3 linked regions of the Homo sapiens genome follow. The protein of the gene in region 2 interacts with the protein of the main gene of each other region in a biochemical or structural test. Each region holds a gene or a part of one and is shown on either strand. Other genes may lie near its edges. The genes, in order: MPHOSPH6, EXOSC10 and USP36.

Region 1 (9,508 bases), on a different chromosome or scaffold from region 2:
CTCTGACATTAAGTTGTTATTCTGCTAATATCAGTGTCTCTGGGTTGGGTGGGGGAACCCTGTGGCCAAGGCGCTGGACAGATGTCGGAATGAATACAGGGTGGTTGGTGCTGGTGATGTCTCTGAGGAGTTGCTATGAGGCTGTTGCAGCAAGTGTTGGGAAGACTAAACTCATATTAACAACTCTTCCTGGAATACCAGCCTCTGCTGGGGTGCAGGTGTTTTGAGGGTGACAAAGAAATAGGAAAAGAAGAGGAAGCAGAGAGAAGGGACACATCCTGTCTTCTTCCTCTAGCCTCGCCATCTCCAGCTGGGCCTCCACTGGCTGATCCTAATTAAGTCAGCTGCATAGGAGACATGGGGTTTGCTCAGTCCCAGCCCGGCACTAAAAGCTGAATACAGAGGGTGAGTTTGATTCTGTGAAGCAACAGCTTTGAATCTGCCACAACCTGCCCTTTCGGCCATTTAGCATCCACAGACTTCTAACCTAAACTTCCTGCAACAAGGAAAACAACTGTTTCTACCGAATACACTGCAAACATCCTTTGTACAAGATACCCTCAGCCTTTCTCCAAAATGAGGAGACACAAAGTCCCAGCAGACATTCTATCAGTTAATTACACCTAAAATTAATCACAAACCCACCTAATATTCTTACCCTACGACTAAATAGCGAAATTAACGCCCTAAGAAAACAAAATAAGGAGGTAAGAGAAGAAATTAGTACACACACATACACACACACACACACACACACACACACGCAGAAGAAAACAGTCATCCCTGGGTATCCAAGGACTGGTTCCAGGACCTCCTGCAGATACCAAAATCCACAGATGCTCAAACCCCTTACCTTAGACAGCATGTTTGCATATAACTTACGTGCATCCTCCTGTATCCCTTAGACTACCTCTAGATGATTTATGATGCCTAATACAATGTCAATGCTATGTAGTTGTCATACTGTATTGTACTTTATATTATTTTTTATTGTATTTTTATTTTTTGAGTACTTTCTGTGGTTAGTCAAGTCGATATCTGGAACTCACTGATATGGAGTGCCAACCCTCCATGTAACAGTTGCAGTAACTTGTTTCTGTAACTGGCTAGTCATAAGGCTGAAATAATAAATTTCCTTCTTTCCTTACACATCCCATGGTTCCTCTTCCCTCAGCCAGTAGCTCAGCTTCTCAGGATTTATACGGGGTGGGGTGTACCAAAACATCATTCCCTAAAGGACCTCAATCATTCCCCTCTTTGAGACTGTTATAGCTGTCCCTTAGAAGTTAGTGGCATACATGGGAAGTGCTAAAAATGCCCTAGAGAATCCTTGGGTTCCAGATGCCTTTCTCACCATCCACTGTGTAGGAACGACATAAATGCCCCTTTGTTGCCAGGATCACTTGCACCAGCCAAAACAGTAACCTCCAGCCCGTTGGTTCAGTGCTGAAATGACTGGATAGTCTCAATTCCTGTCTCAATGGAGCCATTGTTGTGTCCCCTAGCGGGAGCACTCCTCCCTTGGGAACTCAAGAGAAGCAGGAAACAAATCACCCATGAGTGGGACCACTCCATCTACCTCTGCTTGATTCCAGACCGTGCATTCTGACCAAGAACAGTCCCATGGAGTGGTCACTCAATCAAAGCACACGTTACATTTGTCAGATGGAGTTGTATTCCACCTAGGGCCATAAATGTGTCTTCAGCAGACCATTCCATCGTCCTATTATGCCCGCTATTCCTGGGTGATGGGGGATATGCTAAGACCAGTGCACTCAAGAGGCATAAGCCCCCATTACCCCACTTCTTTTATGGTGAAATGAGTTTGTCAATCAGAAGTCGACTGTGCAGACAGGTACATAAGACACGTAGTAAGTCCGGTAGTAAGTCCGTGGATTGTGGTGCTGGTAAGGCACTGGGAAGAACTCGTTACTTCCCAGAGTTGGGAGGTGCATCATTCTCATACTCACAGTGAAAAAAAAAAAAAAGGCCAGATTAACTTCAAAGTCCTATCTTTTCTCATAACTCACCAGAGAACTGAGGTCACAGAGCAATAAAACCTTCCTTACAGAGATTTGAGGAGAGAGGAGACATGTACCTCATTCACTTCCTGGGAGCGAAATTAAATCAGTAGTTCTCAGAAGTCCTAGGTACTTATCTGCAGACAGAAAGACAGACACACATACACACACTTAATTCTATGTGCTTCTTTCTGTACTTAGCATTTAGAATAGAGTTCAGACTAGGAGATGGTACCATTGGTCAGTGGTAAATTCTGTTGGGTTATACCGTAAGAAACTAAAGGTTATTTTTGACCTGTAAAAGGCAATTTCTTATGGTTCAACCTAATACATCACTATATTCTGATCAATGGCTGTTTTTTAAAGTTATTATTTGGAAAAAAGTTATATTACTGAATTAGACTAAAATTGTTATTTGAAAGTACAAGAAAATATAAAAAGTATGTGAAAGTAGATTTTTATTACAGAGCAAATTTTTCTATCAATTCAATGCTTTAAATAAAACAACATAATACCATAAACTGACAATGACCTGGGAGCATGTAAATACTTAAGGCTGGAGAGGCATTTTTATTCTTGATAAATTTATATAATAAATTCTTATGACATTTGATTCCAAATTGTATGTACGAATTGGCTTGACATAATAAATATAAACATAAGGGCAATTTAAACATTGGCAGTAGTTTATGTAAGTCAATTCAAGGTCAGTGACTGGAGAACTATATTAAGAGAAACCTGAGGTAAAAAAAATCTTTAGGAAGCAGCCCTGTAACAATGTACATTTGTAGATCAGGGGCTAAAAATCCACTCTGAATGAATACCAAGAAGCAAAGGATGTACAACATCCATCACACATCTGTTTCAAAAACAGCATGTTTCTAAAATGATAATCTCTTTACAAGTAAACGTTACAGTATTAATAACTATAGAGACACCATTGGGATGAGCTCCAGATGCCCTGCTGACTTCCACCAAGCACCCCTGGGCCATCGCTTAAGGCATCCATCTTAATCCTGGGGCTTTAAGAACATCTTCTTTGCTTTAATTGGTGTTATGTCTCCATTTTCATCTTCTTCATAATTGGCATGGTCTCTCTTTCTGGCAAACTTTTTCCCAATTGTCCCCACCAAGGTCTCATATCTGTCAAGAGGACAGGCAGCACACGTTTAATTTCAAATAAAAAGGTAGGGATCAAGCCTTGTCAAGAATATCAGACCAAATATGCAATAAAAAAGATTACGAAAAAGAAAACTATCATTAAAAGAAACCATCTGATTTAACAATTTATGAACTTCTCTAAGAGTGATTAAATTCCTTGCCATTTTGGTGTTTGCATTACCCTAAATAAATAGAGATGTACATTTTAAAATACACATTTCCAGCAGCTCTGGAAATGGGCCCTCAACTGGCAGCCTGAGACAGGTCTGTGGCCCCCGTAGGCCATTAAGAGAAGGCCGATCACAGTCATCGTCCTACTGGGGGACTCCCTTGAAAGCTGCCGTGCACTGTGGGGTAAGAGGAGCATTCCTGGGAGAGCCAATGAATGCTAGGTCCAGATTAGAAGGCTGCTGCGCAGCACGGTTACCTTCTAGCCATCTCTTCATCTGACACATCAAGCTCTACTGTTTCATCTTCAACTTCTTCTGCTTTGTGCTTAGCATTCATCTGAAGCATCAATTTCTGAAAAATACACCAGTGCTGACCTTCAGGCTAGAAAACGCTTGTGAAAGGAACTGATGTCAAACTTACCTGAAGGCAGAGAAACTGAAGTCAAATAATCTAGAGAACTAGTCAAAATTGATAAGGGACTCTCTGTAATACTTGATACCACAATGGTGTAAGAGAAGTAAGCTCTGAGTCAAAAAAATAGTAAGGCAAAGCCCCACTGAATTATACTTAGGGTGAATTTAAAGTGTATTTAAGATCATAAATCTTAGTATTAGTTACTCATATTTAAAGCAGGCATACTGCTGACACATTCCGGTGAGTGGGGGAAGAAATAATAAACTTTCAGATTTTCCCTGAACTTCCCCCACCCATCTTTAAGCCATATGGAAGAAACACTAGTCGTCAGTAATAATTTTAAATGCATCTCTTGGTGGTGGTGGTGGTGAGTGGAGGAGGTGGGAGAAGTGGAAGGCTGGCCCTGTTTAATGGAGGGAATCTGCACCTCAGCCTTACCCTCCTAAACTTTAGAGTGGATAATGCATCCCATGTAACATCCATGCACCACAGGGTCTCTCCTCCAACTCTTTCACATAAACCTTTTTGTGATAATTATCCTCTGACCTTTTTTTTTTTAAATGTGTAATCTCTTCTTTTTAGCAAGAGGAGAAGGAATAAAAGATGAGAAATCAGTCTTAACTAGTTTTTCTAAGGCTTAAAAGAGTGATAATAGTTTAAAACCTTTTCCTAGGGGGAGTGTATTCAGTGTTTCAGAATCCAGTAATTAGGGCCATTTTCTAACACCCGTCCCTGCCCCCCATCAATTTCTGCGGGCAGTGGCACCTCTCCTTTCCCATTGCAGCAGACATACTTTGGAATGCTCGCCTATCCAAACCCTACTCTTTGAATACCACATCTTCATAATCCCTGCCTTTTTCTTCCCTCTTCACCCCACTGCCCAGCCCCTCTCCTTCTCAATCTGAAGCTTAATTAAAGAAAGTCAAAGCGAGACCAGCATATATTAAAAACAAACACTTCTAACATAACACCTTAATTATCACACATGCCTCCTCCCACTCCGCCAAAAAAGAAAAGGAAAACTAACCTAGAATCTTTCAATAAACTCTGGCAATTGGCTTAGTTAACTGTGGCTCCTAGAGAAGTGGTTCTTAACTGGGGATGATTTTCCCCACCAGGGAACCTGTGAAAATGTCTGGAAACATTTTTGGTTGTCACAGCTGGGTAGGAGGGTGGGGTGTGTGTGTGCTACTGATATTTAGTTGGTAGAGAACAGAGGACAGGGATGTGGTTCGTCATTCTCTTAGGAAAGCCACCACCACAAAGAATTATCTGGCCCCAAATGTTAACACTGCCAAGGGCAAGAAACACTGGCTTCAAGTAATATTTACCAAACTAAAGATTTATATCTCATGTGTCCATTTGGTTCATCAAGTACTTGATAGGATGGCTTTTAACATATGAGCCAGAGTTCTAATGAATATTTGTTAAATAAAGGTCTGCTTCTCTATCCTGGAGCAGGAAAATTCAAATGAATAGCTCAGTTATAAGGCAAATATTCATTTTTCAAACAAACTGTCGAAAGGATTCATTTAAAAATCTACTTACAAGCTTGGATTACAACAGTCCATTAAAAAGTCAAATGACATAATTCTAAAGTAACATTTTTCCGTTAGAAAAAATACATGTATAGGTGCCAGAAAATAACTTTTCATAATAGCATGATATGAATAAAATCTTGACGTTCCTGTAAAAGACACAACTTGAAATTTTAATATTTATGGTGGCTCTGTCAAGGGCTGTATACTGCTATATGAAATTATCTACTCACCTCTACCATAAAACTAGACTGCAATGCCTCCAATTTCTTTAAATAGCTATGGCGATATTTCAAGACTTGTTATTTTCTATATAATGAGTAGAAATGGTACCTGGTGGAGAAACACCTAAGCCCAATTATTAGCAGAAAAAAATTCAATTGGAAAAATTTTTAATTTGAAGCAATTATATTTAATACCTCAACCTCAGGATTAAATCCTCTGAATGACATTCTTCCATAGAGAAGATCTTCACATAGTAAGAAACTCTGCTCTTCTATTATGAAACTCCTAAATGGGAAAATAAAAATAGCATTTCTCCATATATAAAGCACAGCAAACAAAAGCCAACACTTTGAATAAAAAAAATAATCAACCTATGGTTCTCAGTAGAATGAAGTAAAAATACAGTAAGATTTCTAACTTAGGGTTAAAAATAAAATCTGATTAATTTGGTCAGCAAAGGCATTAGGAGACAAGAGCAGCAAGCTAGAGGCACAGCCTCTCTTAAACACCACATTTAATTTGCATAAATATCTACATAATATAAAGATCTAAAGTATTGACAATAAACTTGAATTTGCCAAAGTTGAAGCAAAGTTTCTTTTGTGTTTACATCCCCTCACCATATTTTTTTCCAATTCTTTTTCAGAAAGGAAATAATATGTATGTAAAAATACACATACAGTATACAGTGACACACTACTCCAAATCATTTTAATAAAGTTTCTGGCATATTTTGTCTTTCGTTCTCAGGGATTTCAAAAATTCCATTCTCTAATTATCAAAGCAGCACATTTTAAGGAACGTAATTTGGAAAGCAGAATAAAGTATGAGTTTATAAACTGCCTGTAAGCTCCTTACCAAGAGGATAAAAAGGACTGTTAGTATATTTGAATATTTCCTTCCAGTCTTTTTTGTACTTGCATTTACGTTGATTCTTGAACACAGGTCTGAGCTGTGTGGTGCACTTATACACAGATTTTTTTCAAAAAATTTCAATAGTTTTTGGGGAACAGGTGGTTTTTTGGTTACATGGATAAGTTCTTTAGTGGTGACTTCTGAGATTTTGGCCCCCACCAAATTCTTATTACAAATCCAGGAGAAGTAGTGGGAAATCAGAGGCTTGAGCAGCTTTAACAGTGTTATCAGTCAGAGCTCTTAGCTATAAACACCAAAGGCTGACCCTGGATGACTTCAGCAGAGAAGGAATTTACTGTAAGAACACTGTAGGCTCTTCATTTCCAAGGGGGACTGGTTCCAGGACCCCTTGTAGATATCAAAATCTGTGACACAAAGAGCCAGCTGTACTGGGCATCTCAGAATCACCGGGAAGGCTGAAGGGGCAGAATTGGAAGACGGGCAGAAATAACGGTCGCTAGGTGGTTGCACCAGAACCAAAATCATGCTAGAGAATGACCCTAGGAAAACCACTGTTGCTGCTGACGGGGCTGAGCACGACACCACTGATGGCATTGGGGCAGGTTGCGTTCCCTGGACCAGGATGTTTCTGTCTGCAGCAGAATTTCTCTGCTGAGTCACCACCACATGACCGTAAATCCAAGGTGACATATCTATCTCCAGCCTGGCCATAAACCCTAAAGCATGGCAGGAAAGCAAACATGTGGCTTTTAAGGCTTGTTTGCCGGAGTAGGCTCTGATTCTCATAAAGATTCCCTTATGCAACAAACACTTATTAAACCAAACTGTGTGTATTAAATCAAACTGCGGAAACAGCCACCAGTAAAAGAGCCTCAGCTGGGCACAGTGGCGGATGCCTGTAGTCCCAGTTACTCAGGTGGCTGAGGCAGGAGAACTGCTCGCATCCCAGAAGTGGAAGTTGCAATGAGTCAAGATTGTGCCACTGCACTCCAGCCTGGGTGACAGTGTCAAACACTCACCTCCAAAAAAAAAGAAAAAAAAGGAGCCTCTGCTCTCCTGGAGGTTACAGTCTATAGAAAGAGGGGCCAAATAATGAATGAAACATGAAACATTTATATCACACAATGGATGAAAATAAAGCAGGTTATTCCATCCCTAGCTGTAGGGGAGTAATTGGTATGGAACTAGCTTTCCTGCACCATAATTATATAAAACAGGACAAAATATAAAATGACCATTTTCAGATAATGAACAAATCCAAGCATATGACTGTGATGCCTGAGAGAAGAAAATCAAATGAAGTAGACCCCATGAATGCGGAGCTTTCTGCCTGGAGGCAATTTCCAGATTGTGGAGCAGGGAGTGGGGGACTCACACAAAACCCTGTCTTGCTGAGCTTAAGAGACAAACTGTTTCATTGGGGCTTTAGTTGAAAAAAATAAAGGCACAAACTGAAGTTTGGGGTTATGGTGGTGGCTGGAATATCTGGGTGAGGATACCACTGAAAGGGAGCTACACTATGGAATTCAGGACCTGCATACTGGGTTCCCTTGAATCTTTGGCTGACCATGAAGCTGCACATGTGCAGGATGAGTCTTTAGACTTAGGGAAAAAGTAACTGCTGGAGAGATGATTTCTGGGAGAACACCTGCTGCATTAGCTTCCTGTGGCTGCTGTAACAAATTTAAGCTGACAAAATTGGTGGCTTAGAGCAACAGAATTTATGCTCCTACAGTTCTGTACAAAATCCAGATGTTAGTAGGCCTGGGATCCCTCCAGAAGCTTCCACGGTTACAAGGCCTTCTGTGTGTCAAATCTTCCTCACCTCTCCTCCTTATAAGGAAAAGTGATTACATTTAGGGCCCACCCAGATAATCCAGGATAATCTCTCATCTAAAGATCTGTAATTTACTCATATACCAGCAAGGTAAATTTTGCCACATAAGGTAACACTCACAGGTTTCAGAGATGAAAACCTAGATATTATCTGGGAGACCATTTTCCAGCCTACCATACCTGGGGAAAAAAAATTTACCCTGCAATTGCATGTTGAAGAAATAACAGAGCTTGCACAGAGCAAGGAAATGTTTGAGTTCTGCCTAGCCAGAGAGGAGAGAACAAGCTAAACACTCTGTGATATTTAGTAGAAAGGCCACACCTTAGGAGTAGAGACAATTTAGCTACAAAACACACCCTAACAAAATCAAGCTGATTGGCATGTAAGTCAACTGCCTAATGAAACAAAATTCAACACTCTATTAAGAAAAATAACAAAATCCAGGTAGTCAGCAATGTAATACATACAAATGTACAGCACACAATAAAAAATTCCTAGACATGCAAGGAAGCAAGAAAATGTAATCCCCTCATAGAAAGAAAGAAAACAACTGAAAATGAAATTAGTAGAAATGGACTTTAGAATAGTTACTGTAAATTTATTCAAGGATTTAAACGAAAACATGCATGCAATGAAGAAAGAAACAGAAAGCCTGAATTAAGAAATAGAGACTGCAAAAAAACACCAATAGAACTTATATAATTAAGGGAAAAAACAATTTAAAAAAATAAATTATATAACTGAAAAAAAAACTGCAGTGAAAAACTGGATCAGTCCTATATCTATCAAATAAATGGAATTCATTACTAAAAATCTTTTCACAGAGAAAGCTTCAGATCCAGATGGCTTCACTGGTGAATTTCACCAAGCATTTAAGGAAGAAATAATTTCAATTTTACACAAACCAAGAACTAAGAAGAGGAGGTAGGAACACTTTCCAACTCATTTTATGGCCAAAACCAAAGACATTACAATAACTCTACAGTCTAATATCTTTTTTAAATATAGATGTGAAAATCATCAATAAAATGTCAGCAAATTGAATTTAAAAATTTTAAATGTTACATATGAAGACCAAGTAGAGTGTATGTCAGAAATACAAGGCTGTTCTGATATTCAAAAGTCAATAGTTTTCAACACATTAACAAAATAAAAATCATGATCTTCTCATAAGAAATTATTTGACAAAATTCAACATCATTTATGATGAAAACCCTCAGCAAACTACGAAAATAAAGGAGTATCTCTGACCACTGATCAGGGGC
Region 2 (10,945 bases):
AGGATCAATTGAGGCCAGGAGTTTGAGACCAGCCTGGCCAACATGGCAAAACCCCATCTCTACTAAAAATACAAAAACAGGCCGGGCGCGGTGGCTCACGCCTGTAACCCCAGCACTGTGGGAGGCCGAGGCGGGCGGATCACAAGGTCAGGAGATCGAGACCATCCTGGCTAACATGGTGAAACCCCGTCTCTACTAAAAAATACAAAAAATTAGCCGGGCATCATGGCGGGCGCCTGTGGTCCCAGCTACTCGAGAGGCTGAGGCAGGAGAATGGCGTGAACCCGGGAGGCGCAGCTTGCAGTGAGCAGAGATCGTGCCACTGCACTCCAGCCTGGGCGACAGACCGAGACTCCATCTCAAAGAAGAAAAAAAAAAAAAACATTAGCCGGGCATGATGGCAGGCACCTGTAATCCCAGCTACTCGGGAGGCTGAGGTGAGAGACTTGCTTGAACCCAGGAGGTGGAGGTTGCAGTGAGCTGAGATTGTGCCACTGCACTCCAGCCTGGGTGACAGAATGAGACTCTCACAAAACAAAACCAAACCAAGCCAAACCACTCTTCAACAACAAGGATAACCCACATGTGCTTACTTTTTCCTCATTCCTAATAGGCTGGTCCAGGAAAATTTCACAACTATTTACACCTATTTTCCCTGAGGTGACCCCAGGACACACGGTAACTAGAGAGCCAGGAACAAGGGGAATCTGAGTCCTGGGGTGCAGTGCCTGGCTCTGTGATGTATGGCACAGAGCAAATCACCTCCCGCCCTTGTTTTCCGAGTGGCGTGAGGGACCTGGCTGTGGGAGGTTCTCTGAGTCATCCTGGTTGAAGACCCCTGGACACTCGCTCCCCAGCTACTCCCCACGGACCACACCACGCAGGGCAGGTGCTTTCTCACTGGGCTCCCTGGGCCACACCGCCGTCCACCACATACCTGTCTGACTTTCCAGTTGGAAAGGACATGCTTTTGTTTCCCACCGACTGTTTAATTTTTTTGGCTGCAATGCATTTCTGAAAAGAAAAGAAACCGTTTAAGCTGGGTGGGCACCTTGACCACAAGATACACAGAAAAACACACCTGAGCTCAGGTGGCCAAAGATTCTAGCAGCACAGGAGTGACTTTAGATCCCCTGAGAGAGGATGTTTCTGTGTCTCTGAAGGCAAGGCCGCCAGGATGCGCTGCAAGAGGAACAGGAGCACCCCAAAGCAGCCCTGCCCCCGCGCCTGTGGAAGCTACAGCCACGCTGTTTCCCTGGCACCAGCACCAACACCCACGAGGGGTGAATGCAGGCTTGTGCTGGCCCCAAAGGGGGTGCTTTTGGCCTGCAGCTATAGTTCCCATGGTAGCAAACACAGAATAATACCCTTTAAAGCCACATGCCAGCTTTTACAGCCTCGTTTTATGAGTTGCTGGGGTAGCTGATCAGTACTGTCTGCCCTTGGGAAGAAATGAGGTGAGGAAAAAGATATGCAAAGGAATGGACTCCTGGATGGGCCTGTCTTCTCAGCAGAGGAGGAGGTCAGAAACAGGCGCCACCAGCGTGCTAAAATCCTCCAGGAGCAGTTCTTACCTTGCCAGACGGGGTCTGTTTATTTGGATCAAACTGAGAAGAAACTTTGGATTTGCTGTTTCCTGAAAGGTAAGAGATGAGAGAGACCTGCGGTCAGGTCAATGAGTTACCACACATCACAGGCTCACAGCGAGGCCGGGACCATGACACTCAGGGAAGCCTTGGCTGTGAGAGCACCCCTGTCACGATGAGGGGCTAGGGCTCATGGCTCACATAAATGAATACATAGCGATCCTGGTCCCTGTGGGCAGTCTGAAAACCAGGCCCATTTCTCTCAGCTCTAGTCCCAGGACCTTAGGGGCAGGTGGCTACAGCAGTGGCCCCCGCACATAAGGAAATCCATTCTGATCTCTGTGCTGGGTGATGCCATAAGGAACTCGGGCTCTGAGGCGACACTCCTGTATAAAGGGCCATTGTGTGGACTGGCCTCTGCTTTCTCTTTTCCAAAGGAGCATGTTGCTCCGAAGGCTGCTAGAGTCGAGAATGCCATCTGTAGCCCCTTCAAAGCAGACGGACTCTCACAGCCCAAGCAGCCATAGGGGTTCATGTCATAGGCTTTGAGATTTTTCAACAAACAAAATTCTGTGTGTGTGTGTGTGTGAGAGAGAGAGAGAGGGTTTATGGGCACAAGTTATAGTGAGGAAGGATGGCGCCCTGGTCACAGTGGAAGTGACAGGTGATCTTGCTAACCCACCATGGAGGCCACCATGAGTTGAGCTCCCATGGAGGAGGTGGTAATGAGGCTGCAGGCGACTGTCCACATTGCCACGGCCTCTCTGGACTACTCCAACAATTCCTGGCTAGCACCATGCCTTGTGCAGGACTCACTTGGCCCCTATATTGTGGTCTCTTTATGGCTTCCTCCCCTCTGACGCGCACAGATGTCCCTGTATGGGGCCCCATTACTTCCTCACCAGCAAAAGCCTTGAAGTCTGACTGGCTGTAGTCGTAAGGCGTAAACTCTTTTTCTGGTGGCTCTGGGTCCTTTGGCTTCTTGGAAATTTTGAGTCGTTTCTTCTCTTGTTTCTGTTCTGTGGTCCTTGGGTCGCTTGTTGCTCGCTCTCTCTTCTTTGCAGCATTTTCTAGCTGTAGATCAGGAACAGATGTGGGGGAGGAACAGGGAGGCACATGGGAACAGGGAACTCCACCGGCCTCAGCAATAGCTGGGACCCAGCTGCCTAAGTGGTAAGAAGAACAGTCAGTGGTGGGGAGAGGAGCTGTGGCTGGAACTTCGGGACCAACACTCAGGGTCAGCTGAAACAAATTCCTCACTGGACAATGACATGAGGTCATTTAAGAAAGGCAAGCAGGCCAGGTGCAGTGGCTCATGCCTATAATTCCAGTGCTTTGGGCGGCCTAGGTGGGAGGACTGCTTTAGGCAGTCTGAGACCAGCCTGGGCAACATAGCAAGACCCCTATCTCTACAAAAAAAAAGAAACAAATGTAGCTGGGCATGGTGGTGCGTGCTTGTAGTCCTAGCTACTTGGGAGGCTGAGGTGGGAGGATCACTTGAACCCAGGAGTACAAGGCTGCAATGAGCTATAATTGCACCACTGTACTCCAGCCTGGGCATCAGGGTAAGAGTAAGACCATGTCACTATTTTTTTTTTAAAAGGAAATTAAAAAAAAAAAAAAAAAAAAGGAAAGGCAGGGGGCAGGGGTTAAGAATTCGAGTGATAGCCTGGGCAATATAGTGAGACCCCGTCTCCACCAAAAACAATAACAAAAAATAGCTGGGAATGGTGGTGTGTGCCTGTGGTCTAGCTACTTGGGTGGTTGAGGAGGGAGGATCGTTTGAGCCCAAGAGTTTGAGGCTGTAGTGAGCTGCAACTGTGCCACTGCACTCCAGCCTGTGCAACAGAGGTAGACACTACTTCAAAAAAAAAAAAAAAAAAAAAAGAGTTCCAGAGTGCTCTGGGGTTTCATTCTCTAGAATGCAACATTTTTGTAGGACACAGCAGGACACACAACAAGCTTCAGCACTGTAACCTCAATACCTTTTCTACTACTACAGTTGAGTGGTCTGGCATATTTACCATAAACACAGTGGAAGAAGGTTAAGAGGAATTACAATATCAATCTTGTGGAGGTTTCGGAAATGAGGTAGACACTAATAGCCAAGCTAAGGTGAACCGGAAAGAAGTCAGGACTTAATATAAAGCACAGGGCAAGCCCCCTAAGATATCCAAGGAAGATCCTGACCACAAGCAGGGGCATCGTTTTTCAAAGGAAAAAGGAGAAAAGCTGGCACATACCACGACCTGCTGTCGGACGGAGATGGCCTGTTCTGCTGCAGCTTTGCACGCCTCCTTTGCCTGTTCCCGGGCAGCTGCAAGGGAGAGAACTTGTCTCTGGAGTTGGTGAATCCAGCAACCACCCTCCCCTCCATCTCCATCCCCCTCCGACTTGGCCTAGCCACAGGGGTTGTCACGGCTGATTCCTCCTCCCTCTCAGGTCCCCGGTCCCCCATCTCTGCAGGACAGGCTGCCTCAGAGCTCAGGCTCAGGTGCTCTGCCCACCTTCAGCTACACGTGAGCTGATCCTCCCCAGCCCTGCCTGCTCCTCTTCTGTGAACCTAAATGCTCAGTGGCCTGTGGACCTGAGGGCGTTTAACAGGATCGTCACCATCACCATCGTGGACAAACCTGCTCAAACCAGCTACTTTGGCTGCCAGCAACTCCAGCTTTCCAGCTGCTCAGGACAAAACCTTCATCCAAGGTTCCCTTCCCTTTTCTCACATGCCACATCCACCTCATCATCAAATGCTGTCAGCTTTGCTATGGGACAGATCAAGGCTCTGACAGCTTCTCACCACCTCCTCTGCTCCCACGCTGGTCTCAAAGCCACCATCCCCTCTCGCCTGAGCCACTGCCATGTCTCCTATCCCTTCCTGGACTCCCATCCTGTCCTCTATAGTCTACTGTTGACACAGCAGCCAGAGTGCCACATGTCAGTCACTTCCCCCCGTCTGCTCAGCACCCTCCTGGCTTCTGAACTCAGAGTAAAAGGCAGCGTCATCCCGTGGGCCTCTGCTGGCTCCTTCCCCATCTCCTGCTCTTCTCTACCCGCTCTGCTCATGCAGGCCCACTTGCTGCTGCTCAGCATGCCCAGTGAACTAGCCCCAGGGCCTCTGGGCTCGCTGTGCTGTGGCTCCAGAACTCTTCTCTAGGTCACTGCAGGTCTCGTCAATGTCGCATTCATTAGACTGCCTTCTCCAACCACCAACGAGACAGCTACAGCACCTCCAGCACTCCCCACCAATCTCTCTGCACAGCACCTGCTGCCATCTGCCAGGATAGATACTGATTGCCCACCATCCCTCAGCAGAAGGGAAGCCCCACAGGGGCTTCATTCATCGCCGTATCTGGCACTTGGCTGAAACAGCGGGTGTGCAACAGCCATTCTTTAACAGCCGACTGAGTTGCAAGGAAGTGAGTGTTACCTGTTTGCTCAGCTGCCTTCTTCTTGACAGCTTCTTTAGAGTCTTTTTGTACTTGTACCTGGGCCAGCTTCCAGCGGTTGCTGATCTATAATGAAAGCAAATATAACAAAAAAAACCCTCCAAAGTCAGCCACCTAAGTCTGTCTTACTTTTCATGAGGTGACGAAGGGCAGGTTAACCTAAGAAGTACACACATTCTAAGTCATAAATTTTCAAATCTAAGGGCATGAAAAATAAATTTCATGCTGGCTTTATTGCTAAAATCCCTATTAAGGACAAAGTGCTACTGTCCTCCAGGCACTGGGCCATCCATCATCTCATTCAATCCCTCTGTAACCCTGGGAAAAAGGTACTGTCATCACCCTCTCTTTAGAGATGAGCAAACAGACTCCGGGAGAGTAAATAACTTGTCCAAGGGACATGGTCAGTAAATGACAGAAGCAGACTCAAGGCTGGGCTTCCGCAAGTCTGCTGTGTTTCTTTATGACACCCCACGGACCTATGGCGTTACAACACATGGAGGTGACACTGGGCATAACACACAGGACGTGCAGTTGTTCAGTGTGACATAACCCGTGGGGGGAAAAGAGGAGAGAAGGCAGAAGCCCCACCTGATTCCCCATTTCCAAAAATAGCAAGCTAACTCAGGGACAGGAACGGGGCTGGGGGACCTCTCGGTTTTGCCTAACAAAAGAGCTCTGCTGCCACACAGAGGAAGCCAGTCGCCCATGTCATCAGAGCAGACGCTTCCTAAAGGGAGGAAGGAGGCTGCGAACAACAGTTCACGTTCTGGCTCTGGGGAACATCTCAAGAGGGTCTAGGGGAGGTGTGCTCTCATTCTTACTCATAATGCTGGTAAAAACAAGCCAGATAAGTAAGATAGAGTGTTTTAAAATTAAAGCTGTCACCTTTAAGAGCCTTAAAGTAACAGACATCTATAAAAATGCATCAAGCTGTATATTTAATATTTGTGTACTTTACTACATATAGATTAAACCTCAATTTAAAAACCGCAAATGAAGATTTGTTTCTTACAAAGTTTCCAAGTGCTTTTCTTTTTCTTTTTTGGCTAGAGTTCGCTCTGTCGCGCAGGTTGGAGCGCAGTGGCGCAACCTCGGCTCACTGCAAGCTCCGCCCCCCAGGTTCAAGCGATTCTCCTGCCTCAGCCCCCCGAGTAGCTGGGACTACAGGCGCCTGCCACGACGCCTGGCTAATTTTTTGTATTTTTAGTAGAGACGGGGTTTCACCATGTTAGCCAGGATGGTTTCGATCTCCTGACCTCATGATCCGCCCGCCTCGGCCTCTCAAAGTGCTGGGATTACAGGCGTGAGCCACCATGCCCAGCCCAAGTGCTTTTAAGAATCTCACTGAAGTTCTGGACCCTTTCCCTAGAAACAATGCTAGAAAATAAAGGGCTTTTGCATTCATTTTCACGGGATTCACAGATGAGATAGGCTTGTCTAAAACAGAAACCTGGTATGAATAATTAAGAAATCCCCTTTTCTTAGAAAGTCTCTTTTAGGGCCAGGCGCAGTAGCTCACGTCTGTAGTCCCAGCACTTTGGGAGGCCAAGGCGGGTGGATCACCTGAGGTCAGGAGTTCGAGACCAGCCTGGTCAACATGGTGAAACCCCATCTCTACAAAAATTAGCCGGGCATGACAGCAGGTGCCTGTAATCCCAGCTACTTGGGAGGCTGAGGCAGAACTGCTTGAACCTGGGAGGTGGAGGTTGCAGTGAGTCAAGATTGTGCCTCTGCACTCCAGCCTGGGTGACAAAGCGAGACTCCATCTCAAAAAAAAAAAAAAAAAAAAAAAGTCTCTTTTAGAACAGGTGACAAGTCCACTTACTTCATAGATTTTGGTTGATGGATCGAACTTCGCTGCCTGAGAGACGGGAGCACGGTGTCCCAGTGAGGGCAGAAACTGGAGGAAGGAAATGGCTGTGTGAAACGCTGCCGGGAACGGAATCTAGAGCCACGGGGCAGAAGCGCTCAGATGGGGGGTTGCTGGTGCCTTGTCAGCGTCTTTGCCAGGACACCAGGGCAGCCGACACACTGGCTTCAGAGGCTTCCTTCCCAGGTAAAAGCATGTACAGCTGTAGGCATCTCTGCATATCCTGTCAGCCCTGACAAAACTACTACTCACCATCCTAAATGGATTTTCAAAGGACTCCATGATGTTCTGGGCTTTTTTCTGTGCAACTGTCAATGGACCCTTTTTACTGTCTTCAGCACTAGGTTCCTGCAGGGACAGACAAAAAACGATCACTAATGACCATGATCATCTGTGACATCAAGATGCAAGCAAGAGAGCAACAGTTAACAGTGATTTTTTTTTTTTTTCTGGAGACAGAGTCTCGCTCTTTTGCCCAGGCTGGAGTACAGTGGTGTGATCTCTGCTCACTGCAACCTCCACCTCCTGTGTTCAAGCGATTCTCCTGCCTCAGCCTCCTGAGTAGCTGGGATTACAGGCACGTGCCACCATGCCCAGCTAATTTTTGTATTTTTAGCAGAGACCAGGTTTCACCATATTGGCCAGGCTGGTCTTGAACTCCTGACCTCAAGTGGTCCACCCGCCTTGGCTTCCCAAAGTGCTGGGATTACAGGTGTGAGCCACCGCACGCACCCGGCCAGTAACAGTGATATTAATACCAATGGCTAAGGCTAATTTTTCATACACTCTCTTATGTATAAGGTGTTGTGTCTGCAACAGCACACAGTAGCATTTCAATATCAATGTGCTGGATCAGTGAATTCTCAGCATGTCCTCATAGCCTATGAGGTGGTATTACTCTCACCATCTTACAGAGGAGGAAACTGAGGCCTACAGAGGTTGTGACAGTCTTTCAGAGGCTTGCAGTGAATACAAGCAGACCAAGGATCTAAACCCACCATGGTCTGGCTCTAGAACATGAGGTCTTAATTGATGCCTGAAATTTATTTTATGTATGTATGTATTATTTTTTTGAGTGGAGTCTTGCTCTGTTGCCCAGGTTGGAGTGCAGTGGTGCCATCTCTGCTCACTGCAACCTCCGCCTCCTGGATTCAAGTGATTCTCCTGCCTCAGCCTCACGAGTAGCTGGGATTACAAGCGTGCGCCACAATGCCCGGCTAATTAAAGACAGGGTTTCACCATGTTGGCCAGGCTGGTCTCAAACTCCTGACCTCAGGTGATATGCCCGCCTTGCCCTCCAAAAGTGCTGGGATTACAGGTGTGAGCCACCACGCCAGGCCTGAAATTTAGTATTACATATCTTTATAGGGAATCATTGAAATTATGCAACAAAATGCTGCTTCCAACTGGGTTCATAAATATGTGCTATCCTTTTGCTTCATCTGTAATTATGCGCCCTTGCAACACAAGAGTGCAGGGAGACCACAGCCTCCTTTACACCAAACAGCACTTCCGTATCAAAGCAGCCCAGAGCTCATGCTAACACGCTTAGCTGCTAAATCATCTTCATGACTCAAATTAGCTCTGAGGTCAGCTAAAGCGCCTAGTATTTTCTCATTAATTGCTAAAGCAAGGCCCAATCTAGATTTATGTAATTAAGTTAAAAACCAAAGTGAAGCCTGGGCGACATGGTGAAACCCCACCTCTACAAAACATACAAAAATTGGCTGGGCATGGTGGCATACACCTGTAGTCCCAGCTACTCGAGAGAAGGCTGGGGCAGAGGGATTGCTTGAGCCCAGGAGGCAGAGGTTGCAGTGAGCCAGGATGGTGCCACTGCACTCCCACCTGGGTGACAGGATGAGATCCTGTCACAAAAAAAAAAAAAAAAAAAAAAAAAAAAAATGCCGGGTGTGGTGGCTCATGCCTGTAATCCCAGCACTTTGGGAGGCTTAGGTGGGTGGATCGCCTGAGGTCAGGCATTCGAGACCAGCCTGGCCAACATAGTGGCCCCATCTCTATTAAAAATATAAAATATTAGCTAAGTATGGTGGCGGGCGCCTGCAATCCCAGCTACTAGGGAAGCTGAGGCAGGAGAATCGCTTGAACCTGGGAGGTGGAGGTTGCAGTGAGCCGAGATGATGCCACTGCACTCCAGCCTGTGCAACAAGAGCGAAACTCCATCTCAAAAAACCAAACCAAACAAACAAAAAAAGTGAAATAGCTGGGCACAGTGACTCATGCCTGTAATCCCAGCTACTCAGGAGGCTGAGGCAGGAGGATCGTTTGAGCCTCAGAAGTCAAGGCTGCAGTGAGCCATGATTGTGCCACTGCATTCCAGCCTTGGTGGCAGAACAAGATTGTCTCAAAAAAAAAAAAAATCATTTCTCTTCTTCACTGAAAGCACACATATGTGGTGCTGGGGTCAGGCAGGAAGCTATGGGCAGCGCACATTCTACAGTTCATCGGACAGTACACCCATGCCACCCCTGCTGGGCATCCAGGTGAACCGTTTTTCCTCCACCACCACTGCAGCTTGTCTGGAAAGCCCTGCTTGTATGTTCTCTTAGCGCAGGCCCTCCTCCCACTAGGTGCTGTTCAACAACAGGACGTCAGCCTTTCCTGGAAGATTTCTTCACACAGAGCTCAAGAGAATCCCCCATCCACGTCCCCAGACCACCTCCTCCAGAGTGGTCAGTGCCACCTTGCTCATTGGTCTCTATGCCTCTCCCAGCACTGCTGGGTTTTGCTCTCAGCATTAGTCTCCGAGTGTATGCAATGCTCCAGGCAGACAGCCTGCTGAATAAATCCAGTAAATCCCAGGGGGTCCTCATCACCTCAGTGAAGTTTCTGTGCTACTCACATTAAATAACGTGATGACAGCTGTGGCAATCAGGCATGTGGTACCCAGCAAGTTATCTTCTTTTTCATCAGGGAAGAGGCTCGCCTGCTTCTGAACTGGCACAGATCCTAGAGGAGCAGAAGATAGTAAGGTCAAAGCCTACAGAATTTTGTTTATTTTTTCTTTTTGAGATGGAGTTTTAGTGTAGTCCCCTAGGCTGGAGTACAATGGCACAATCTCGGCTCACTGCAACCTCCGCCTCCTCGGTTCAAGTGATTCTCCTGCCTCTGCCTCCTAAGTAGCTAAGATTACAGGTGCCCACCACCATGCCAGCTAATTTTTGTATTTTTAGTAGAGATGGGGTTTCACCATGTTGGCCAGGCTGGTCTCAAACTCCTGACCTCAGGTGATCTACCCGCCTCAGCCTTCCAATATGCTGGCATTACAGGCATAAGCCACCACGCCCGGCCAAGCCTACAGAATTTTAGACAAGGTAGCTGTGTCCCAACCTCTTCGGGACAGTCAGGAGGGCTCTCGACTTTACCACTGGTTGGGATGATTGGATAGCCATCCGGAGGGGCATGGGAGCAGTCGTGAGGTCCAAAGAGAACATTCTCCAATCTCTGCATTAAAAGACACCAGCAGGCTGGCATGTAAAACGTGCAAGCCGGCAGTAGCTTTCTGCCAGCTGTCAGCACAGGCCTCTGTCAGAGGTGTACTTGCACTGGCTGTGACTTGACGTTTTCCCTCCTGGGGGAGAAAACAGATCCGACACTCTACCTCAGCACTGGGCAGCGGTCCGCTCTTCTTCACTCCGGCTGCAACTTCAGACTAAGGAAAAAAACGAAGGGAATTGAGGAAAGTTGCCCAAGCACCTCAAGTCCAACCCCCAGTCTCCAGCGCTGACTGTATTCCTTCACCAGCCTGTTTCTCAAAAGCCCAGAGATTTTCTTTCCTCTCTTCACTCCTTACAGTGCCTGGCATGATAATTATTTGGTGCTCAATAATTATTTGTAGAATGAAAGAATAAAGCTCTTTAACATGACTAAGCACAATAGGAAGGATTCCAAAGAGCTTGAAAAAGACTCTTCTCTAGTAATCAAGGTCTCTCTTTACTTGGACAAAGTACAGAGCTTACAAAGACATTTTTAACACAAAAATTGCAAATGTGGGGCTGGCAGGTGGCTCACAACTG
Region 3 (10,945 bases), on a different chromosome or scaffold from region 2:
GGTAGCTGCTGTACACAGGCCCCACTCCCTCCAGCTCCATTCCCAAGCACAAAATTCAACAGACCCAGATCCTAAGTCAACCAAGTGACTGCTATGACAAAGGCTTGGGTTATTGACATTTACTTACATACGTGTACAAGACCTAGAGTTTGAACTCGTTTTCTGGGCCTCATCTTTCCCTTCCCTATCTGGTTGATGACTTCGGTGGAGGGAAGGGACGTGACTCCACCCAACAGTGATAAACGCTGCAGAAAGTCATCTCGTGCTCACCACTGCCCAAGAGTTAACGAATGTATGTACCCCAGGAAAAGGTTTTACAGTTATCTAGTGGAGAAGGGAAGAGACTGATTTGGAGGAGAGAAGGGAGAGAAAGGAACGAGATAAATTCTGTGCCAGCAGACAACTAACATTTTCAACTACAGAACATCACACGGTAAACATGGCAGAGGGAACAGTTCACACAGGAATGCAAGTCAACACCCCGAGAAGAAAAGGAACATACCCTGCCCGTGAAGGCATGTGCTTTCCCTTCCAGATAAGTTACAAAGCCAGAGCACGGAAGCCAGGCCCTCATCTTTGAACATTCAGAGACTGGTCCGCAGGAGAGGGCACCCTGAGCAGCTCCACTCACTGCTGCTGGGACACAGGTGGCCACAGGAGCTTGATTCTCTCCCACCCTTCTAAGAAGAGAAACGTAAAAACAGAAGAAAATCCAAAAAGAGACACCCACCCACATGGAAAAAAATAAATGTATCTTCCCATATTAAAAAAGCAATTCCATCTACACGCCAGTAACCACCCAGGCCCCGAGCACAGGGGCAGGAAGCAAAGCTGCCCCAGGGAGAGGGGGTGCAGACAGCGAGGCAGCCACCCGGGACAGCAGGATGCCTCTGGCCCAGCAGAGCCACACTGAAGGAGGTCTAAGTCCAACACCACGTTGTCCATCTCCACCTGCGACGACTCCGGGAGGAAATGACGGGGACAGACCCGATGAGGAAGGATGTTCACGGTCACCTTCACACTTCCCACTACTATGAGGGCATTTGTCTTTTTCCTGAAAATATCACCTTCTCTGAGGATTTCCTGTATTTATTAAGTTACAAGTTGGCAGGCACAGCTTGAGCAACATAGAAAAGTAATCTTCTTGAGTTATACAATCATTTAAATTCCAAAGCACTCACAAAATTGAGCAAACAAAGCCACTATTTGCATATTTGGGAAAGGAAACATATTGCTAATGGAAGCCACAGGACTGGTCAAAAATAAATGTTTTGTATTAAGTAGTAAAATAAATGGAGAATTCTACCCCAAAGCCTCCACCTCAGTGAAGACCTGCGGGTTATTGCAGCTGCAAGGGAAGCTACAGCACAGTCGTCTCAGAATAAACAGCAGCCTGGAAAGCAGATGTATTCGCAGGTATCGAGGGCTCCTCCGACCCCAAATAGCCTCTGCTCTCCAGGACAGTTGAGAGCTACTCACAAGGAAGGGGTGCACAGTAGGGCCACCCTCTCGAGTTCCATAAAAGGGAGAGGTGGCTGGGTGGGGTCACCTCTTCCTTTCTGAGGACAGGTAAGGCCAACAGATGAAGGGGTCCCGCTGAGGAAGCAGGGGAGGGCGGGCTCGGACACAACGGTGGCGTCAGCCCCGAGAAGCAAGGGATGGCTTGCCCAGAGCCACCAGCTATGCACCGGGAGACCACCTGGGGGACATGTGGCCACCATCCCCCACTCTCCTGATAGCCCCAACCAGGGGCAGCAGCCTCTGCCAGCACAGACCACTGTCTATGAAACATGAGAAGGCACAGCCTGGCAAAGATGTCCAGCAGGTGTGCGGCCACCTCTGCTCACACACACACTGTCGTTTCTCTTGCAGGGCTGGTCGGGAATGTCACCAAAGAGGTTCCGATCTAGAGAAGCCTCAAAGCCTCTGTGTTGGGCGGTCTGTGGACACTGGTACCGGGAGAGCTCCTACCGTGACAGGCTCCCAGCGCAGCAGAGCCCACACAGAGAGCTCCCTCAGATCCAGACCGACAGCTCCCGGGAAGGGACGCCTTGTCTCCAGGAGGCTGCAGAACAAACCACGGTAGTCCTGACAGAGAGAAACGAGACCCGAATCTTCCCACTGCCACCCTCGGGTATGAGTCCAACCTAGGAACCCAATGCATGGCATCTCGATGCGGCTGGCAAGAAGTCACCCTTCTGCAAGTGACTGGGACACATGCCAGATATACACACAACCCACATCCCACACACACCCCACACATGCCCTTCTCCAAGTGACCAGAACACATGCCACAGATGCCAGGTGTACACACCCCACACCCAACACACACTACACACACCCCCTTATACACACGCATCCCACACACACCCCCTTATACACACGCATCCCACACACACCCTTCTCCAAGTGACTAGGACACACACCACAGACGCGCCCACACCACACACACCACCCAACACACATGTGCCAGATACACAGCCCACATACATCATACACACACGCCACACCCCACCACACCCCTACACACATACACGGCACACACACCCCCACCTCACCCTTACACCCACCCCCTCGGAACCGACCTCCTTCCACAGGGGCACAGTCAGCGGCGATAGCTGAGGCTGGCAGCCTTTGCTGGGTGAGTCACAGACCAGAAGTTCCGTCGAGTCTGAAGTTTCTGGAAGGCGTTGAAGTTTCTCCTCTTCTCTCTCTTAAATTTTTTAATTTTCTTTTCCTAGACCAAGAATCACAGGCATCACAGTTCCCAAAAACGGCTCTTTCCTGGCCCACGGGGCTCCATGCTGCATGCAGGTCCTGCACACAGGCCGGGCTCTCATGAGCTCTCTGGAGACCCACTCTTCACAATGACCCCTGTGCACGGCGACCTGCAGTCCCCCTATTGACAAAGGGGCGGAAGCTGCGAGGATGCATGCCCTGTCCATGGCCACACGCCCGGACAGGCCTGGGCAGCCTGGCTCTTCTCATGCTCGGCCGCTTCATGCCACTGCCGCCACCTCCAACTGCCCCGGCTCTGAGCTGAGCCACGCCGCCCTGCTCCCTCAAGCCTGTGGTCAGCATCACACATCATACCTTCCCTCGGTCAAACTCTTCGTCCCAGTCATCAACCACGGTCTCAGTCCGGGCCTGTCTGCTGTCTTCAATAGCATCCTGACTGACCGCCGACATCTTGCCATCCCAGGTCAGAACTACCAGGCAGACACGGGGGTCAGCACGAGTGCAGGTTCCCAGGTCCCCTGTGGCTTCACTTCAAGAGTGTCATTTACCAACTAGTCTACTCATAATTAGTCAACAATTTTGAGTGCCACCTTGTGGTGAAGAGAAGGACAAGAGGAGGACGGCTCGACGCCCATGTGTGGTCGGTCAGCATGGAACCCCCAGCGATGCCCTCTTAGCTAAACCCTAAACCACAGCCAAAGAGTTCAGTTCTTTCTAAACCCATGCCCTCGTCTGAGGAACAAAGATGTCATGTTTGGTCTCGAAGTCTGAATAAAAACATGCTCTGAGCAAGAAGTGACATTACCCAGGTTGGAAGAGCTTCGTCACTCTGCCCCTTCCCTACCCAAGACACAGCATGTGTGGGGCTCCTCACCCTGCCCCAACCCTCAGAAGCAGCTGTTCTGGATCCTGCCACGGACAGAAGCCACCTTCGTGCCACGGCTGAGGGTTTAAAGAGGACTCCAGCCAGTGTTGAGATTCCTCTTCCCATTCTCAAAGCCGAGCGATGCCCGCCCGCCACACTCACAGTGCACCAGGATCCATTCCACACCCTTCCCTCCTACAAAACCAACCAATGAAAGGCAAACAGAAGTCCTGTCTCCAAATCAGTACCTTTTCTCCCGTAAGCTTTATCAGATGAGTATTTGAGCAGTTCCTGGACCACATCAGACTCCCGCTCTCCATTCCAAGACACAGGAGGGGCCTGGCTCAGCCCTGCAATCGGAGCAGCCAAGAAACATTTACAGACGTTTAAAATAACCCACTGGGGAAGCAATCGCACACCTTAAATTATAAAACAACTTACAGTAAGTGGATGCTTGCCTTTTTTTTTTTTTTTTTTTTTTTTTTTTAAAGACAGGGTCTCACTATGTTTCCTAGGTTGGTCTCAAACTCCTTGGGACTCCCACTGGCCTCCCAAGGTGCTGGGATTACAGGCATGAGCCATGGCGCCCAGCCTAAATGCTTATTTACTAATGCTTACATGCTTAATTTACTAATGACCTGACACAATAGAGAAGGCTGTTGTCCAAGTCAATTCATGAGAAAGAAAACATGGAAAATAACAAAAAGCTAAAAACCAAAAAAAAAAAAACCCTCCAAAACCCCTTTAACCAGTAGTGTTAAGTCCTCAGTCTGACAGAAGGAGAGAAGAGAACTAGATCTAAATGGAATCCACCTCACCTACGGGAGAGGCCCATGCCCCAGGACCAGCCTGACACCTGGATGGCCACAGGGGTGGAGGGAACGGCCAAGCTTGGCTGCTGCCATCAGGGGCCCGACCTCCTAAGCCCTGTCCAGGGGGAACCTGGTCCCCATCAGCAACACCGCACAGGTCCACCCAGCACCTCGGGACCAGGACAGCACTCACCACCCTCATCGGGTTCTAGAAACCCTTTCTGAACTCGTCCTCTGCCCAGCTAGCCACATAGCCCCTGGAATATACTCACCTCCCTTCACACAAATCTGACCTCATTTCTCCCTGCCTCCAATTCCTCAGTGAGCTCCAGGCTAAGTGTCCCCTGCCCCCACACAGTGGCTTCCATGGTTCCCATCTCATCCACACAGCCCAGGGACCCGGCCATGCAGAGCAGCCTGCCTGCTCCCAACGTGCTGCGCCTCCTGCCCTTGGGTCTGGTGCCCTGCCCATTTAGCCACTCTCCTCAGGTGCACAGGACTGCAAGAGCCCATGCGGCCCCCAGCGCCTCCTTGCTGAGCATGAGCCCTTACTGTGTGGTTCTGGCTCTGCCAGGGAGCCCCGAGGGCCCAGGGCGCACTTCAGTAGACACAACCAGCACCTGGCATGGACCCTGGCGCACCGCAAGTGCTCAAGTGATGTCCCTTGCACTAACAAGCCAACTCCACTTCGCTCCGAGGGTGGCACGGAGCACAGCTCTGGTGCCATGTTAGGGCAGTATTTTTTTTTTTTTTTTTTTTTTTTTGAGACGGAGTCTCACTCTGTCACCCAGGCTGGAGTGCAGTGGCGCAATCTCGGCTCACTGCAAGCTCCGCCTCCTGGGTTCACACCATTCTCCTGCCTCAGCCTCCCGAGTAGCTGGGACTAGAGGCGCCCGCCACCATGCCTGGCTAACTTTTTGTATTTTTAGTAGAGACGGGGTTTCACCGTGTCAGCCAGGATGGTCTCGATCTCCTAACCTTGTGATCCGCCCGCCTCGGCCTCCCAAAGTGTTGGGATTACAGGCGTGAGCCACCACCCCCGGCCAGGGCAGTACTTCTGAGAGCATGCTGGCCAGCAAACTCAGTCGGCACTAGCTAGCACCCACGTTTTGCTATTTATTTCATACCATTTCATTTTTAACGATAAATTCCTTTCTTAAGAGTTGGATAAATACAAATCAGTCTCTAAGGTCCTGCTGACCCCCAGATGCACTGCCATAATCAGACCTTCCAGACTGCAGAGGAGGCCTCACTCAAGCTCGGCCCCCTATACCAAGCAGCCAGGACTTTCTCTCCCCTTCACTTAACAAATGTGTTCTGTGGCGGGTGCCTGCCAAGGCATGCCCCAGCCAGCCCTAAAGAAAACAAAACACCCTCCGATTGAGGGGTGGTGCCCAAGGACAGCCACAGCACACAGGTCCCCAACAGCAAGCAAACCGTGCTATGTTCTGAATGGCCCAGCTACATAGAGGGAGAGGAGGATTCACTTTTGAACCCAACTCTTCTAAATTCAACCATCACAGAAAAAAACTCAGGCTGGGAGTTCAGGGAGTCATTCCGTGAGAAGCTGTAGACAGAACAGCTTTGAATCGGAAGACCCACTGGCATTCACAGAATGTTTTAAAGTTCATGTGCACTGTAACCTCTCTCATGGGGCTGTTTCAGTCAAATGCTGTGACACATGAGGAAGCTTCAACCCCATCACCCAAGGGAGCAGACTCGGGGGTGGGGGGTGAAGGTTGGTAGGGTCCCAGGGCCCTCCACATCTTCTCCCAGACCCTCCCAAGCTCAGATGCAGTAGACGCTGCTCTCAGCCTGTGCACTCCCCAATACCCCCTCACCCGGTGCACACCCACGCGGTCCCCCACCCCCTTGCCCGGTGCACACCCACGCGGTCCCCCAACCCCTCGCCTGGTGCACACCCACGCGGTCCCCCACCCCCTCGCCCGGTGCACACCCACGCGGTCCAACCCCTCGCCCAGTGCACGCCCATGCGGTCCCCCAACCCCTCGCCCGGTGCACACCCATGCGGTCCCCCAACCCCTCGCCCGGTGCACACCCATGCGGTTCCCACCCCCTCGCCCGGTGCATACCCATGCGGTCCCCAGGACACCAGCCATTCGCGGATGGTGCGCAGCTGCTGGACTCGGGGACAACAGCATCTTGGGGCTTGGCACTCCTTGGGCATTTGAGATGCCCATCCTCTTCTACTGCCCGCTGTGTCTCCTGCTTTCTTTTTTTCTTTTTCTTTTTCCTTGGAGACTCTTCCATGGCCTCTGGATCACCATCACCCATGGGAGAGCAGCTGCTTGGAAGTGAGAGGCAGCAGTCAGCTCTGAGCAAATTGGAAGGGGAGCAGGAGCGCACAGACACCCGCCTGCAACATGGAGAAGGTGCCACCCCAGCTGTGACCCAGTGCACGCAGGTCCCTGCAACATTCTTCCCCCCACACGCATTAGCGGACGCTCCACACGCAGCCACGGAGACAGTAGAGGGAAAACCAGTCGCGTTTCCCATCCTAACTGAGCCAAGCCTGTTGACGCCAATGTGCAGGCTACTGTGACCTGATGAAACGGCAGATCCTGGCCTGGCCCGGGACACCTGATCCAGCATCCTTGAACGGCCCTGCACATACAATGATGGACACTACTGTCCACACCACTGTCGCTTCAAGGATCAATCCACTGGTATTTATCAGAGGAGATATTTTTTCTTTTTTCTTTTTTTTTAGACAGGGTTTAGCTGTCACCCAGGCTGTAGTGCAGTGACGCGATCTCAGCTCACTGCAACCTCCACCTCCTGGGCTCAAACCATCCTCCCACCTCAGCCTCCTGAGTAGCTGGGACTATAGGTGCATGCCACCATGCCCAACCAATTTTTGTTTTTGGTAGAGAAAGGGCTTTTCCATATTGCCTAGGCTGGTCTCAAACTCCTGGGTTGAAGTGATCCACCCGCCTCAGCCTCCCAAAGTGCTAGGATTACAGGTGTGAGCCACCACACCCAGCCAGAGGAGACATCTGATCACAAATCCACATTTTAGAAAACCACGCAAGCAGACTACGTTTCCAGACCATACCTACTTGGGGGTAGATTCTGTGGTTTTGCTTTGTTTCTCGTCAGAGGTAGACAGATGCCACTTTGCTCCTGCCCTTACCTGTGCCGAAGTGGGTCCTGGTGCAGGCCGCCTTCTTCACCAAGACCTTCTGCTCCTTTCCTCCTCCGCTTCCTGCTGCTCGCGTGGTGGCCGTCCGTAACACATCCCACCTGCTGGCCATTCACCTGTGGCTGTGTGCCATCTTCCTGCCGTCTGACAGCGGGCAGCTGTGCCTGGCCCTCCCTCCTGTACATGGGGCTCCCAGGCTGTCTCTGTGTCTGCCCCTCCTGCAGGGCGCTGGCAGCTGTGTCCTCCGGGCGCTTCTTCTTCTTCCTCTTCCTCTTCCCGTGGGGAGCCGCAGTGGCCTCCCTGATGTGCTGTGGGAGGCGCGTCTCTGAGCCCAGCCTCTGCGGCTCTCCCACAAAGGTCTTTTTCCTCTTCTCAGAGGGGCTCTGGGGGGGCTCACTGGCCTCTGGCAACTGGTGTGGAAGAGACACAAGGTCCTCGTTGACCTGAGGCAGCGCCGTCGAGATGGAGGAGCAGCTCCGTGGTTCTGACGTCCCTGGGGGCTTGGGGGTACTGGACAGCAATGTGGGGTGGGGGCTGAAGGGGGGTTGCAGGCGGCTGGATGATTGGGGAGCAGGTGACACAGCCCTGTGGGGACAGCCAGGAAACAGGGAGAGGATGTTCTGAAAGACCCAGCAGAGCTGTTCCTTCTGTCTACCCTCACTCCCCTCCCTTTCACCTAAAAATCTGAAAAGGCTTTTACCCTGTAGTTTTCAGATACACATTAAGTTACATGTATGTTTGAAAGAAAGCTAACAATTAATTCAACATCTATTTAAATGCAAAGTTGGCCAGGTACAGTGGCTCATGCCTATAATTCCAGCACTTTGGGAAGCCAAGGTGGCTGGATCACCTGAGGTCAGAAGTTTGAGACCAGCCTAGCCAACATGGTGAAACCCCATCTCTACTAAAAATACAAAATTAGCCGGGCGTGGTGGCACACGCCTGTAATCTCAGCTAGTCAGGAGACTGAGGCAGGAGAATCGCTTGAACCTGGGAGGTGGAGGTTGCAGTGAGCCGAATCGCGCCACTGCACTCCAGCCTGGGCGACAAAGCAAGACTCCGTCTCAAAAAAAAAAAAAACCAAAAAAACAAAAACAAAAACAAAAAAAAAAAAACAAAGTTACCTAGGTGGTGGGTTGATAGGTGCAGCAAACCACCATGGCACCTCTGTAACAAACCTTTACATCCTGCACATGTACCCTGGAACTTAAAATAACTGATCCCTGAGATTTAAAAAAAAAAAAAAAAAAAAAAAAAAAAGCAAGCCAACACGTGATTTTAAAAGTCAAAAAAAAAATTTTTTTTTTTTTAAAAGGCAAAGTTAATAAGAATTGTTCCATGCCTTAGTTTCTTGTCACCAAGCAATTCAAGTATTTTTGCGAGCTCTAATGTAAAAACATCTTTAATACAAATGTGTTAAGGGAGGAAACCTTCACGAAACAATAAATGGTAAGGAAAAAAAAGATCCCGTGAGGATTTATTTTCCAACCTCCGAAAGTCTCAGGGTGTTCCCGGGCAGGAAATGAGCCTCATAAGGAAAGCAAGTGTTGAGCTGGCCTAATGACACCTCCACATTACCGTCATTAGGACGCTGAAACCGGGACACAGATGCGTAGAGCAGAATCATGAGCAAGGCGTGTCCGGGACAGGATCTAGTGCCGAACCCAGTGAGGCTCCCTCTTGCCAGCTATGTGTCTCTAGGAAAATTAACTTCCCACTCTGAACCACCATGTTCTCATTTGTCAATGAGCTGGGACCACAAAGCCCACCTCCCAGGGTTCCTGCAGAAAACAGGACCCCCGTCATCATCTAAACAAACTATAAGGGCCATGCCAGCTGCACGATGTTTGATTACTCTAAGTGTCTTCTGGAATCTTTTCCAAAAAAGCTTATAAGGCAAGAAACGAAAAACACCCAAACACTTAAGGCCCTCCCACGTACACAAATCTTATGCTAGGTATAGGGCAGAGGTGTGCTTGTGTGTGTATATGTGAGAGGAGAGTAAGGCAGAGGCTGTGGGCGACGCACAGTCATACCTCGCCCTCATGTAGCACTGGAGATTCTAGAACTAGAACCCAGCGCCGAGGCCACCAGTACAGTCCCCGCAGGCCGCCTCATGACTCACCCCATCTTTCACTGCTTCCGTCCCCACTCCCAGCGGCTTCCAGACAGCCATTTACCAGTTACTCTCAACTTCCTGCCACTCGAGGCACCTAAGAGACGCAGGCAGCCCCTGCGGACCAGGGCCCACATGCACAGGGAAGGGGCTGCATCTCTGGCAGGTGTCTGCAGAGGAACCCGAGAGCCCTGAGACAGTTCTTAACCTGCATGACGCTAGCAGGCAAGACGTCCCACAAAAAACGCTCGGGACTCCGAGCTCACTCAAGCCTCTCGCCAAGGCCTCACTTCGCCTTTCTCTTCGACTGGGAAGTACTGTCATGGGGCTGGTAGGGATACAGGACAGGTCAGTCCCCAGCACACCACATCACCACAAGGATGTCGCAGACAGACCACCAACAAAGACAGAACTAAGACATCAGGACTGCAGAGGCCGAACTGCCTTCACCACCCAAAGCTCCTTTACCACAGGGGAACACAGAAGAGGGGGATCTTGGTCAGTGACGCCCCCCTGTACCTCCTGGCTGCCCCAATGCTTTGTCTGTCCTGTGAGGTTGGCGATTCGTCCAACTCCTCACCAGCCAAGCACACGCAACCACAGGGAGAACCAGTTGGCACCCAGAAGATCCCGGCCCAAAGCTTACCTGGCTCTATGGACGGGCCAAGTGGAGGCAACGACGGGGTGAGAGGTTTTCATGGGGTGGGTGAGGTCGGAGGATGGTGAGGGGGGAGGTGGACGGAGGTCATTGCCGGTCGCCCTCCACAGGGTGCTGGCCTGCAGTTATCGACATAAATAAAAACTTGGTGGTCTAAAAAAGGTTTCCGTGAGTGAAGAGGGAAAACAAAAGTAACAAAAAATGAAAATAAAAACAAAAGAGCCCAGAAAAAAAGATGAGGAGACAGAAGAAGACAAAAAGGGGAGGTGAGGGGCAGGGGAATGGTAGAAGAAGAACCAGAAAAGTATTTTTGGTTAGAAACAAAAAAAAGGAAGAAAATTTAAACAAAAATCTCAGCACAACAATCACATCCACGTGCCGTGGCTGCCCAAGCTTCCTGCTGCAGAGGTGCCGGGCACCCCACTGGGGCTCTGCGCTTCCTGCCCGCCCCACCCCTGCTAGGGACACGTGCTGGTGGGGCCCACCCTCCCTCGGGTTCAGTCAGGATCTTCCACCTACTGTGAAAACAGGGAACTGCTACCTTGCCCAAACCTCCATGAGTCACATGAGCATCACCAGATCAGGGCTCTCT

Evidence for each region.
Region 1: the proteins of EXOSC10 (region 2) and MPHOSPH6 form a complex in vitro, tested with the Homo sapiens proteins (one study listed by IntAct).
Region 3: the proteins of EXOSC10 (region 2) and USP36 form a complex in vitro, tested with the Homo sapiens proteins (one study listed by BioGRID).

What each region holds. Positions count from the first base shown.
Region 1 is NC_000016.10:82,145,700-82,155,207, forward strand, and holds the end of MPHOSPH6 (M-phase phosphoprotein 6), read right to left. Parts: intron 5,816-9,508; coding exon 5,725-5,815; intron 3,705-5,724; coding exon 3,610-3,704; intron 3,165-3,609; coding exon 3,032-3,164; 3' UTR 2,463-3,031; downstream 1-2,462. UniProt on the Homo sapiens protein: RNA-binding protein that associates with the RNA exosome complex. Involved in the 3'-processing of the 7S pre-RNA to the mature 5.8S rRNA and play a role in recruiting the RNA exosome complex to pre-rRNA; this function may include C1D.
Region 2 is NC_000001.11:11,067,071-11,078,015, forward strand, and holds part of EXOSC10 (exosome complex component 10), read right to left. Parts: intron 10,582-10,945; coding exon 10,531-10,581; intron 10,374-10,530; coding exon 10,295-10,373; intron 9,879-10,294; coding exon 9,772-9,878; intron 7,257-9,771; coding exon 7,161-7,256; intron 6,939-7,160; coding exon 6,864-6,938; intron 5,102-6,863; coding exon 5,017-5,101; intron 3,919-5,016; coding exon of another isoform or gene 3,904-3,918; coding exon 3,830-3,903; intron 2,661-3,829; coding exon 2,489-2,660; intron 1,637-2,488; coding exon 1,575-1,636; intron 1,015-1,574; coding exon 938-1,014; intron 1-937. UniProt on the Homo sapiens protein: Catalytic component of the RNA exosome complex which has 3'->5' exoribonuclease activity and participates in a multitude of cellular RNA processing and degradation events.
Region 3 is NC_000017.11:78,795,815-78,806,759, forward strand, and holds part of USP36 (ubiquitin carboxyl-terminal hydrolase 36), read right to left. Parts: intron 10,507-10,945; coding exon of another isoform or gene 10,473-10,506; coding exon 10,342-10,472; intron 8,165-10,341; coding exon 7,571-8,164; intron 7,042-7,570; coding exon of another isoform or gene 6,722-7,041; coding exon 6,510-6,721; intron 3,955-6,509; coding exon 3,853-3,954; intron 3,210-3,852; coding exon 3,094-3,209; intron 2,738-3,093; coding exon 2,606-2,737; 3' UTR 2,586-2,605; intron 2,089-2,585; exon of another isoform or gene 2,066-2,088; 3' UTR 1-2,065. UniProt on the Homo sapiens protein: Deubiquitinase essential for the regulation of nucleolar structure and function. Required for cell and organism viability.